Linked DNA regions of Homo sapiens. The protein of the gene in region 1 interacts with the protein of each later gene in a biochemical or structural test. Each region holds a gene or a part of one and is shown on either strand. Other genes may lie near its edges. The genes, in order: CDC25C, FHL1 and FAM20C.

Evidence for each region.
Region 2: the proteins of CDC25C (region 1) and FHL1 form a complex in vitro, tested with the Homo sapiens proteins (one study listed by BioGRID).
Region 3: of the proteins of CDC25C (region 1) and FAM20C, one has a biochemical effect on the other in vitro, tested with the Homo sapiens proteins (one large-scale study listed by IntAct).

What each region holds. Positions count from the first base shown.
Region 1 is NC_000005.10:138,325,177-138,328,827, reverse strand, and holds part of CDC25C (M-phase inducer phosphatase 3), read left to right. Parts: intron 1-298; coding exon 299-344; intron 345-2,773; coding exon 2,774-2,807; intron 2,808-2,923; coding exon 2,924-3,013; intron 3,014-3,651. UniProt on the Homo sapiens protein: Functions as a dosage-dependent inducer in mitotic control. Tyrosine protein phosphatase required for progression of the cell cycle. When phosphorylated, highly effective in activating G2 cells into prophase.
Region 2 is NC_000023.11:136,200,039-136,203,689, forward strand, and holds part of FHL1 (four and a half LIM domains protein 1), read left to right. Parts: intron 1-3,651.
Region 3 is NC_000007.14:198,932-202,582, forward strand, and holds part of FAM20C (extracellular serine/threonine protein kinase FAM20C precursor), read left to right. Parts: exon of another isoform or gene 1-1,752; intron 1,753-3,651. UniProt on the Homo sapiens protein: Golgi serine/threonine protein kinase that phosphorylates secretory pathway proteins within Ser-x-Glu/pSer motifs and plays a key role in biomineralization of bones and teeth.

The DNA.
Region 1 (3,651 bases):
TTCAGATTTTCTGAGTGATAACCTTTCTTTTCTACCCATAAGAAAAAAAAAAACTCCATAGGTAGCATAGTGTAGTGTTTCCCAACACTTGATTTCTTTTAGTGACACATATAAATTCTTACGTTTCTGTGAAATTGTACCTTGTACCATGAAATGGGTACCAATCGAGAGGCTTTGTATTCAAAAGCTCAGTCCTTGAAATTAATACGGCTTACTGGTAATGAAGAAAATCTGAAGGAAAAACAGGATGCATGGACAAGAATAACTCCTTTTACTGATTCTTTATATTTGATTGCAGGTCACCTGGATTCTTCAGGACTTCAGGAAGTGCATTTAGCTGGGATGTAAGTTCTGTTGTTAAATGAACCCCACACAAAAGCCTTTTAGCACTGGTCATAGAGATTTTATCCTGTGCAGACTCTGCAGAGTACAAAACCTTTCATACTGGGTATAAGTGGGCTTTGAGGCCTAGTTCCTTACCTTGAACAGTTTCTAAGTTTTCCACATCTAAATAGTGTTGTGAAAATGAAGGCTATTCATTTTAACCATCATAATCAGAAGTATCTATAAGGAAATGAAGGAAAATGGTATACTACACTTATGTATAGGCTTTTATTTGTATGTGAAAGGTGCTGTATCTTAGTAATTGAAAGTACAGAGTGGCCGGACACGGTGGCTTACATCTGTAATCCCAGCACTTTGGGAGGCCAAGGCAGGCGGATCAGTTGAGGTCAGCAGTTCAAGACCAGCCTGCCCAACATGGTGAAACCCCGTCTCTACTAAAAATACAAAAATTAGCTGGATGTGGTGGCACATGCCTGTAATCGCAGCTACTTCGGAGGTTGAGGTAGGAGAATTACTTGAGCCCAGGAGGCGGAGGTTGCAGTGAGCCAAGACTGCGCCACTGCCCTCCAGCCTGGGCGACAGAGCGAGACTCCGTCTCAGAAAAAAAAAAAAAAAGAAAGTACAGAGTATAAGCTCTGGAATCAGTGTGTGGATTCCTGGCTTACTACTTCATTCACCAGTTGTGACTCTGACAAGTTTTTTTTAACTTCATTGGACCTTAATTTTTTTTATTTGTAACGTGGAGACAATAATAGCATTTCTCATAAAGTAGCTATTGTAAGGAGTAAATAAACTGTGTATCTAGCACATACCAAGCATTTTACTTATGTATTTATTTTTATTTTTGAGATGGAGTCTGGCTCTGTTGCCAAGGATGGAGTGCAGTGGTGCCATCTTGACTTACTGCAACCTCTGCCTCCCTGGGTTCAAGCGATTCTCCTGCCTCAGCCTCCCGAGTAGCTGGGATTACAGGCGTCCACCACCACGCCCGGCTAATTTTTGTATTTTAGTAATACAAAAATGGAGGCTTCACCATGTTGGCCAGGCTGGTCTTGAACTCCTGACCTCAAGTGATCAGCGCCCCACCCCCACCCACCCCTTGGCCTCCCAAAGTCCTGGGATTACAGATGTGAGTCACTGGGCCCAGCTTGAATTGCTTTAAATGCTCTAACCCAGATAGATAATGAAATCCATGGAGGGAGGATAGAAATTAATTTTTTTTTTTTTTTGAGATGGAGTCTCGCTCTGTTGCCAGGATGGAGTGCAGTGGTGCGATTTTGGCTCACTACAACCTCCGCCTCCCGGGTTCAAGTGATTCTCCTGCCTCGGACTCCTGAGAGGCTGGGACTACAGGCACATGCCACGACGCCCAGCTAATTTTTGTATTTTTAGTAGAGACAGGGTTTCACCATGTTGGCCAGGACGGTCTCTATCTCTTGACCTCGTGATCCGCCCGCCTTGGCCTCCCAAAGTGCTGGAATTACAAGCGTGAGCCCCCGCGCCCAGCCTTTTTTTTTTTTTTTTTTTTTTGAGACGGAGTTTTGCTCTTGTTGCCTAGGCTTAAGTGCAATGGCGCGATCTCGGCTCACCACAACCTCTCCCTCCCGGGTTCAAGCGATTCTCCTGCCTCAGGCTCCCAAGTAGCTGGGATTACAGGCATGCGCCACCATGCCTGGCTAATTTTGTATTTTTAGTAGAGACGGGTTTCTCTGTGTTGGTCAGGCTGGTTGCGAACTCCCAACCTCAGGTGATCCGCCTGCCTCGAACTCCCAAAGTGCTGGGATTACAGGCGTGGGCCACAGCGCCCCGCCAGAAATTAAATTTTTTTAAAAAGTTAGCCCCGGCCGGGTGCGGTGGCTCACATCTGTAATCCCAGAAGTTTGGGAGGCTGAGGCGGGCGGATCACGAGGTCAGGAGATCAAGACCGTCCTGGCTAACACGGTGAAACCCCATCTCTACTAAAAATACAAAAAATTAGCTGAATGTGGTTGCAGGCGCCTGTAGTCCCAGCTACTCAGGAGGCTGAGGCAGGAGAATGGCGTGAAACCGGGAGGCAGAGCTTGCTGTGAGCCGAGGTCGTGCCACTCCAGCCTGAGTGACAGAGCCAGATTCCGTCTCAAAAAAAAAAAATTAGCCCCAATACACTGTGCTGGAAAATTAGTAAATTGTAAATTGTATAAAACTCGTTCATCTTTGGAACATGTTATATGGTTATGCAGGCAAAATGAGGGTCTTATCCCCAGGATGTCACTTGAGTCTTGATATTTACCACAGAGAATACCCTATGTATTGTTGTTGGAAGAGACATATCAACTAGGAATAGGGCTCCTAGAATGAAATAGAAAAATGTTGGGATGCACCAATCCACTGAAGAATAATCAAACAGTATTTGGGACTAACCTGACAGGCAGTTTGTTTTAATCTGCAGGAATCATGACCAGCACCTAATGAAATGTAGCCCAGTGAGTAGCCTCTCTTTTTTTGGGTTTTGTTTTGCTTTTCAGGTGGGAGGCAGAGGGTTTCCATTGCACCTGTGGCTTGAGGATGCTGGACGTTCTCAGCAAACTCTCTTTTTTAGGCACAGCTTCTTTGTAGCACTCCGAATGGTTTGGACCGTGGCCATAGAAAGAGAGATGCAATGTGTAGTTCATCTGCAAATAAAGAAAATGTGAGTGTTTAATGGAAACCTAGATATATTGGCAGTTTTATTTTTTGAGTGAAGAAACTTGGTATCATAATGAGACATAGAACTGTTTATACCTCGTATGCTAGACAAGGAAACTGTATTACTATAGGGGAGAAAATTTCTTTGTTTTTGTTTTTTCTTATTAAAGTTTGGCCCTAGGACAGACACCCAGCTCCAAATCTTCCACAGTAGGTCATCATTATTTCTCATGTTCAGTTGATCATTTTGAGGACAAAAATTACCCTTACTGTAGTGTAAGGGATTTAGGAGTTTTTTGTTTGTTTGTTTGTTTGTTTTAACAGGTAGGGATAACTTGCATAACTTGTTCATGGATTTTTTTTTACCACTTTACATGCAAGTGTAGATTAATTTCTTATTTCCCCCTTAGTCTAGCTTTTAAGCCCTTATTCCGAGGAGGCCATGGTACTTTTTATCTAAACCTTAGGCCATCCGTCGTTCCAAGTTAAATCTAGCCTCTCCGGAGCCACCTCATCACTAAGATAGTTCTGTATCTAATCCCTCATCTAAGCCCCTTTTCTAGACATCGTTTTTTCTTCCCTGCCTCCCATCCCTTTCCCCAAATCATTACCATAAAAGATAGCTGCTCTTCTTTTCTTACA
Region 2 (3,651 bases), on another chromosome or scaffold:
AAGATACTGAGGTTTATTTAGGCACCTCTCAGCATGTTGGATGTAGTTCAAGAATTTTCTGAAAAAGGAAGCTTGTTTATTAAGTGAAAATGATGTGTCTTTTGAAGCAGGCATAGAAAGTCAGGCTACCCTTTTGGAATAAATGTCTAAAATTTTATCACCCAGCCACATTTCTAACTGTATTCTAAGCTTGTAAAACTTTAATTTAGTTAATTTTTAATTAAATTATTTAATAATGATGCTTTCTGTCTTAGAAAATCAGGGGACATTTATGTGGACCTAAGGTGTAGGTTAGACTTCAGCACCTTACACGTCATATAAGATGATTTTTAAAATCAGGAAATAGTATGTCATATTGCATTAGGTTCATAAGTCCATGAAAGCAGAGGAGAATAGGCCCAAGAAAGAAGTCCTTACAGAAAGGAAATCAGTGTGGTCCTGAAATAGGGTTGGTATGGACAAAATAGAGGCTCAGATAATTGGATCAGAAGCCACTTTCAGTGACTATCCACATACCAAAGTTTTAGAAACTTAGTTGTGGTAACATATCTCCATCTGTCAATCAACAGGCATATACTGAGTGATTCCTGTATACAAAGCCCTGGATTAGGTACTGGGGCCCCCTAGTGTATGAGCAGAACTTTCTGTCATAGAGAAACCCCACTTGTTAGCACTAGGGAATGTATCCAAGTCACTCGGCACCAAAGTATGTTAGCAGCGGGGAATCTGTGGGTCTGTAGCAACCTCATTTCTTGCCTCCTCAAGGAAGAACAAGGCAGAGGGAGAAGCCAAGGCAACTTTTAGAGCAGGAGTGAAAGTTTATTAAAAACTTTTAGAGCAGGAGGCCGGGCACGGTGGCTCATGCCTGTAATGCCAGCACTTTGGGAGGCTGAGGCGGGTGGATTACTTGAGGTCAGGAGTTGGAGACCAGCCTGGTCAACATGCTGAAACTCTGTCTCTACTAAAAATACAAAAATTAGCCAGGCTTGGTGGTGCACGCATGTAATCCCAGCTACTTGGGAGGCTGAGGCAGGAGAATTGCTTGAACCTGGGAGGCGGAAGTTACAGTGAACAGAGATTGCACCATTGCACTGCAGCCTGGGTGACAAAGTGAGACTCCGTCTCAAAAAATAAAATAAAGTTTCAGAGCAGGAATGAAAGTAAAGTACATTTAGAAGATGACCAAGCAGGCTACTTGAGAGATTCAAAAAGTGCATGGTTTGACCTTTGACCTGGGCTTTTATATGTTGGCATGATTCGGGTGTTATATTACTTCTCTCCTGATTCTTCCCTTGGGGTGGGCTGTCCGCATGCCCAGTGGCCTGCCAGCACTTGGGAAGTGCCGCATGCGTGGTGTTTACTGAAGTTGTGTGCATGCTTACTTTAAGCGATTTTTCCCTTAGCAGTAGAGCATTCCCAGAGGTAGGTCTTATACCAGTTAAACACCGCAATTTTGCCTCTTAGTGCACATGCTTGAGCCCAATTACCCACCTCCTGAGATCTCATGGGGACGTGGCTGAGCATCAGTTTCAGGTGTTTCTGTCTATTAGGGACCGTGTTTCCTTGGTGCCAGCTGCAACCAATTATTATTTTAGCGAGAGATAGTTTAACAACCATCTGACCTTCACCTGATGGCCGCCTGACATTCCTGGTTGGGTGGGGGGCCCTCTCTTGCCCTGCTCATGTCTAATACCTACTCTGGCATCCCTACTATGTACAGATGAGGGCTACACCGAGACATTAAAATTAGTCAAAGAGCTGCCCGAGGGCAAACATGCCCTCCACAAAGACAAGTGGTAAGGGAAGAAGCATGGTGATGATGTGTAGCAATTGTTTCCTTCAATGATGGCTGACACTCCCATTCCCGGATAACAGCAATAGGTCAAGGCAGACATATCTAGAAGTTCTGGAAGATTAAAGGCCTTCACATTTCATGTACTTAGAAATAGCTAAGGGGATAAAAAATTATTCCCTAAGAAATAAATGCCTAAGTACATGTAATTCTGTAAGGTTGAAGAGAGCCCAAAAGAAGAGGTAAAATGCTGGCTGGGCATGGTGGCTCATGCCTGCAATCCCATCAAGTTGGGAGGCCGAGGTGGGCAGATCACTTGAGGTCAGGAGTTCAAGACCAGCCTGCCCGACATGGCGAAACCCCGTCTCTACTAAAAATACAAAAATTAGCCAGGCGTGGTGGCATTCACCTATAGTCCTAGCTACTCAGGAGGCTAAGGTAGGAGAATTGCTTGAACCCAGGAGGTGGAGGTTGCAGTGAGCCAGGATAGCACCACTGCACTTCAGCCTGGGTGACAGAGCGAGACCCTGTCTCAACAACAACAAAGAGGTAAAATGCTATCTTCATTTTTCCCTATTCTCTCATTTCAAACAAAAGAAAGTGCAAGCTGGGATGGACGCGGTGGCTCATGCCTGTAACCCCTGTAATCTCAGGTGCGGTGGCTCACGCCTGTAAAATGCACTTTGGGAGGCCAAGGCAGGTGGATCATGAGGTCAGGAGATCGAGACCATCCTGGCCAACATGGTGAAACCCTGTCTCTACTAAAAATACAAAAATTAGCTGGGTGTGGTGTCACATGCCTGTAGTTCCAGCTACTCGGGAGGCTGAGGCAGGAGAATCACTTGAACCCAGGAGGCAGAGGTTACAGTGATCCAAGATTGCGCCACTGCACTCCAGCCTGGTGACAGAGCGAGACTCCGTCTAAAATAAAAAAGAAAGAAAGAAAGAGCAAGCTTTTCTCTCCTCATGAAGTCAAAGCTTGATAGTAGCTCAGACTCAGGGAGCCCACACTCAGGATCTTTGCATGTGTGTCTCAGCATTGTCATTTATAAGCTGGCTTTTTAGAGTTGTTTTGGTCTTGTGCACATCAGCACATCATTCATATTTTATACAAAATTGTGACGTGATCAGTATCTCCTCCAACTTCATCCTGAGCACACTGCGTGCATGAGGGTTTGAAATTGTTTTGTAACAAATAATCATAAATTTAGAAGTACGTGACGTAAGCTAATTCAGGTTGCCCAGAGTTCCACTTAATTTGATTTATTGCAAAACAAATACGAAAGTTCATGAATTTGACATAGACATTGTTAACATACTTTAAGTATTTCTAGCCTGTTTACTTATTATGCAACAAATCCAACATTCCTAGAAGTGCCTATTTTATCTAGACTAATTGTTTCCACACACATTAAAAGGACTCAAGTGAATTGTAGAAATGTATTCTAAAAGAATATGCCCTTTGAAATGATTCTCCATCTGGATACAGACTGCAGGTTTAAGTATAGAGTGGTGGGGAATCTAAGGTGTAAGGTGACCCTAGAGTTTTCAAACTCAGAGTGAAAAAATCTTGCCTAAAGCTAGGATTCAAAAATACCAAGAGATGAAACTCTTCTTATGGGTACTATTAACTTGGGGTTGATTCATTTAATTTTCCTTTTGCTTGGTTTAAGACCATGTACTATAGGAATGATACAGTGGCCAGTGACTTCATTGTCTGACATTTTCAACACCCTTTGTTACTTCTATCTTCACTGGTGAGCTGTGGATTATTTTATCATCTGGATGCTTAGAACTCTGAGCAAGTCATGTTCTAGAACTATGAGACTAAACAATGAAGAACTTTGCACTGGTAATAT
Region 3 (3,651 bases), on another chromosome or scaffold:
CTTGGAGATGCTCACAGGTGAGTTCTCATTTGTGAAGAGGTCTGTCTTCCTGAGGAAGCAGGGGACCCTCACCTGTGAACCAAGTGTGCCATGGGAGCTGCTCCATGTCCAGGTCCAGGTCTCCTGGTCTGCAGGGAACGGCACAAGAGGGCTGGCCTAGGCCAGGAGGATGTGATCTGTCCTAGAAGGGGGCTGACCTGCTTGCTGACCCCGCTTGCTGCTGCCTGGCTGGCCTGACTCAGCCACGGCTGTTCCGAGGGCCCTTCTGAGTACGAACTTCCAGTTGGAGGATCTGGGTGAAGACCCAGCTGCTTGAGATAGCAGCCTCTGGCTAGGCCCTTGGCGTGGCCAAGCCAATCAGGCAGGTTTAGAGCCTGGTGCCCCTAGACAGGTCCTGCAACCAAGAACAGGGGTAGCCTTCAAAGGCCAGCCCTGCCTTCCAACCACCGCTCCACAGCGAGGGAAACCAAGGCTCTTAGGGCAGGAGGCTTGTCCGAGATTAGCACCTGCGTGCTCCAGGCTCTGAGTTCTGTCCCCTCAGCTGTCCGGCCCCTGGGTGCTCACTTTAATCTCAAGTCATTCATCTTACTATTAAACGTGAGCCCAGAAATATTGTTGTAATGGAGAACGATGCCTGCGAGTCTCCAAAGCCTTCCCTCGGAACGGTTCCATTAAATCTCTCCTGCTCAGAACCACCCAATCCAATTCATGGAGCGCCACGTGGTCTACAGCACAGCTGGTTAGGGCCAGCGGAGGTTTATTTATAGCTGGGCTCCTGGCTGCCTGGTAACCGGCCATTGCCACCTTTAAAGAGTCTTGGGATATTATCTACCTCTATTCAGCTTGAAATCGGGCATGCAGTGCCTTGGGCTGGGGCTGGCGATAATTAAATTTCTATCATGCACAATTATGGATGCAAAGAATGAATGACATCCCACTGGCATGTGAGGATTCGGGCAGCTTCTGGACTGAAATACAGACTTCATAATTGCTCCATCCAGATTGGGACAAAGACTGTGGTTGGGAGAACATGCCTGAACAAAGAAAAATGACTCTGCAGGACCAAAGTTCTTGACACTGATTGATCTGCCAAAAGGGGAAGAATGAGTCCAGCTAGAATCCAGGACTAACCAGCGGGTGAGCTTCAAGGAACAAAGGGCTTCCGCTGGGTCAGCCCACGAGAGGGAGCTGCCTGCAGGTACCTGGGAGGGCACAGCCACCGTGTCTGTTCCTTGGGAGCAGGGCTCCTTGGAAGGCAGCGCCAGCTCCAGAAAGGCCACTGTTCCCCCTCCCACCCACCCCAGGTGGCAACTGCCCCTGCAGGTCACGGTCCCAGGGCCTCGCTCGGCCGGCCTAGAGAGAGAAAAGGGAAGATGCCCAATTAGCTGGACGCCCATGGCCCCAGGGCTGGGGGACCTTGGGTTATCCTGAAAGAAGGACAATGACCACCTGCAAAGGACGATTTCAAGTGGAGCCTGGAGGAGGCGGCAAATAGCTCAGTCCGCACTCAACTCCCTTCCCAGCCGTCTGGTGGAAGGTGAGGAGCAAAAGCTCATGCTGCTGAGGCCTGGGGCCACCCAGGCACCGGCCTCCCCGTGCTGAGCAGAGACAGCAGCCCCCTAGCTGCAGGAGTGTGCCCCGATGCGCACCTGCCGACTTTCCTTCTGATGCAGACATGGTCCCCACTGGGGCAAGGCTGCAGTTTTCTTTTAAAAAACAGATCTTTCAAAATAAAAGGGGCCTTGAAGAAAATCGTGGAATAAATAACAGTCTGGGGTGGAGGCGGTTCTGGCGAAAGTGTCCTGAGGGTGGTGTGTGATGGACGGGACTTTGGGCAGTGCTGATGGGGCCTTGCCTGTCACTTGAGGCCTCCAGGAGAGTCGAGGACTGGCAGATCCAGGTCCAGAGCAGGTGCAGGCTCCCAGCTCTTCCAGCCCCTTACCTCGCAGTAGGTTCCCACAGTTCTAGCCTCCTTGATGCCAGCCCCAGGGTGCCCACTGCTGGCCAACTATGTCCTTTTCCTCAAAACCAGGTCCCTCGGTGCCCAGGGTGAATGGGTATATGAGCCTGGGTGTGGGCACCCGGGGTCTGGGACACCGAGCAGACCTCTCTGGCTTGGAGATGTGTGCGGTGGGAAGAACAGGGTGACCTGAGCTCTCCCGGTGTCACATTCTCCACATCTGAGCCCTCTTTGGGTGAGGCCCTACTTCCAGCACACACAGCTGTCCCCATTCGTCTTCAGGAATAACTGACCCTTGAGGCCAGACAGTGGCTGTGAAGAGCAGGGGGACCGCCTGACCGTGACCCCCAAGGACAGACGCTGGCCCTCTTGACGGACGAGATGACCAGGGCCAAAGGCGGCAACATGGGGGCCCACGCTGACGGCAGCATCTCACACCTGGATGTGTTTCTGTGGTCCACAGGTCTGTAGGAGGTGGAACTGGTTAATTTAAAGTCAGGTTGGGGTTGTTGTTAGAAAGGGTTCCTGCTCCCACGAGAAACCAAGGATGAGTGGTGGCTGCACCCAGTCTCCATCCCCATGAGCACCCTGCGGGGTGTTGGGACCCCCAGGCCCGGGCCACACACCTCTCTCTTTCAGGGCCGTCTCTCCCTGTCTCTCCAGACCTGCTCTGGGTTCTTCCTTCTAGAGCTTCCCAGTGGGTTGCCGGAGCTGTCTGGGGTTATGTGGCTTGCCTAAGGCCACACCGATTGGGGCCTGGCACCAAAGTCCATTAGTATTTCTGTGACAGCAGCCATCTTTCTATGTAAGACGCTTATTTCATAAGAAATGCCAGCATCTCTTGGAGTCCTTCTGAGGAGGCAACTGCATACGAACATCGCCTCTGTCTCGTGCTGTGACCCGGGGAGAGACTGTGGGCAAAACCCAGTGGCGTCCGAGGGTCTGTGTGGCCCCGAACTCTTAGTGCTGACAGCAACATGAAATAATGAAGGCACAGGGCACTCTGTTCGTGCATGTTAACTTGTGTAACTAGTGCACGTTAATCACATTAACTAGCCATGTTAACTAGTGACGTAGATTAATAATGATGAATCAATAGGAATGAGTCCTGTATACTGACGGATATCCGGGCGATAGGATTCTTCAGCGAGGCCGGGGAAGAAGCAGACTGTCACCTTTGGTCTAAAGTTGGTGGGTTAAGTGGTGGGAGGTGCTCAGGGCAGGTGGCAGGAAGGGGAGAGCGTTCCAGATGGGGAGAACCTATTTGAAAGGCAGTGGACATCTTCCCATGTGCATAGAGAGGACGGGTGGCCACTGGGCGAGATTGCACTGGGGAATGGGGCTTGTGGACATCTTCCCGTGTGCATAGAGAGGACAGGTGGCTGCTGGGTGGGATTGTACTGGGGAATGGGGGGGCCCTATGGATATCTTCCAGTGTGCATAGAGAGAATGGGTGACTGCTGGGTGAGATTGCACTGGGGAATGGGGCCCGTGGACATCTTCCTGTGTGCATAGAGAGGACGGGTGACTGCTGGGTGGGATTGTACTGGGGAATGGGGGGGCGCTATGGATATCTTCCCATGTGCATAGAGAGAATGGGTGGCTGCTGGGTGAGATTGCACTGGGGAATGGGGCTTGTGGACATCTTCCCGTGTGCATAGAGAGGACGGGTAGCTGCTGGGTGGGATTGT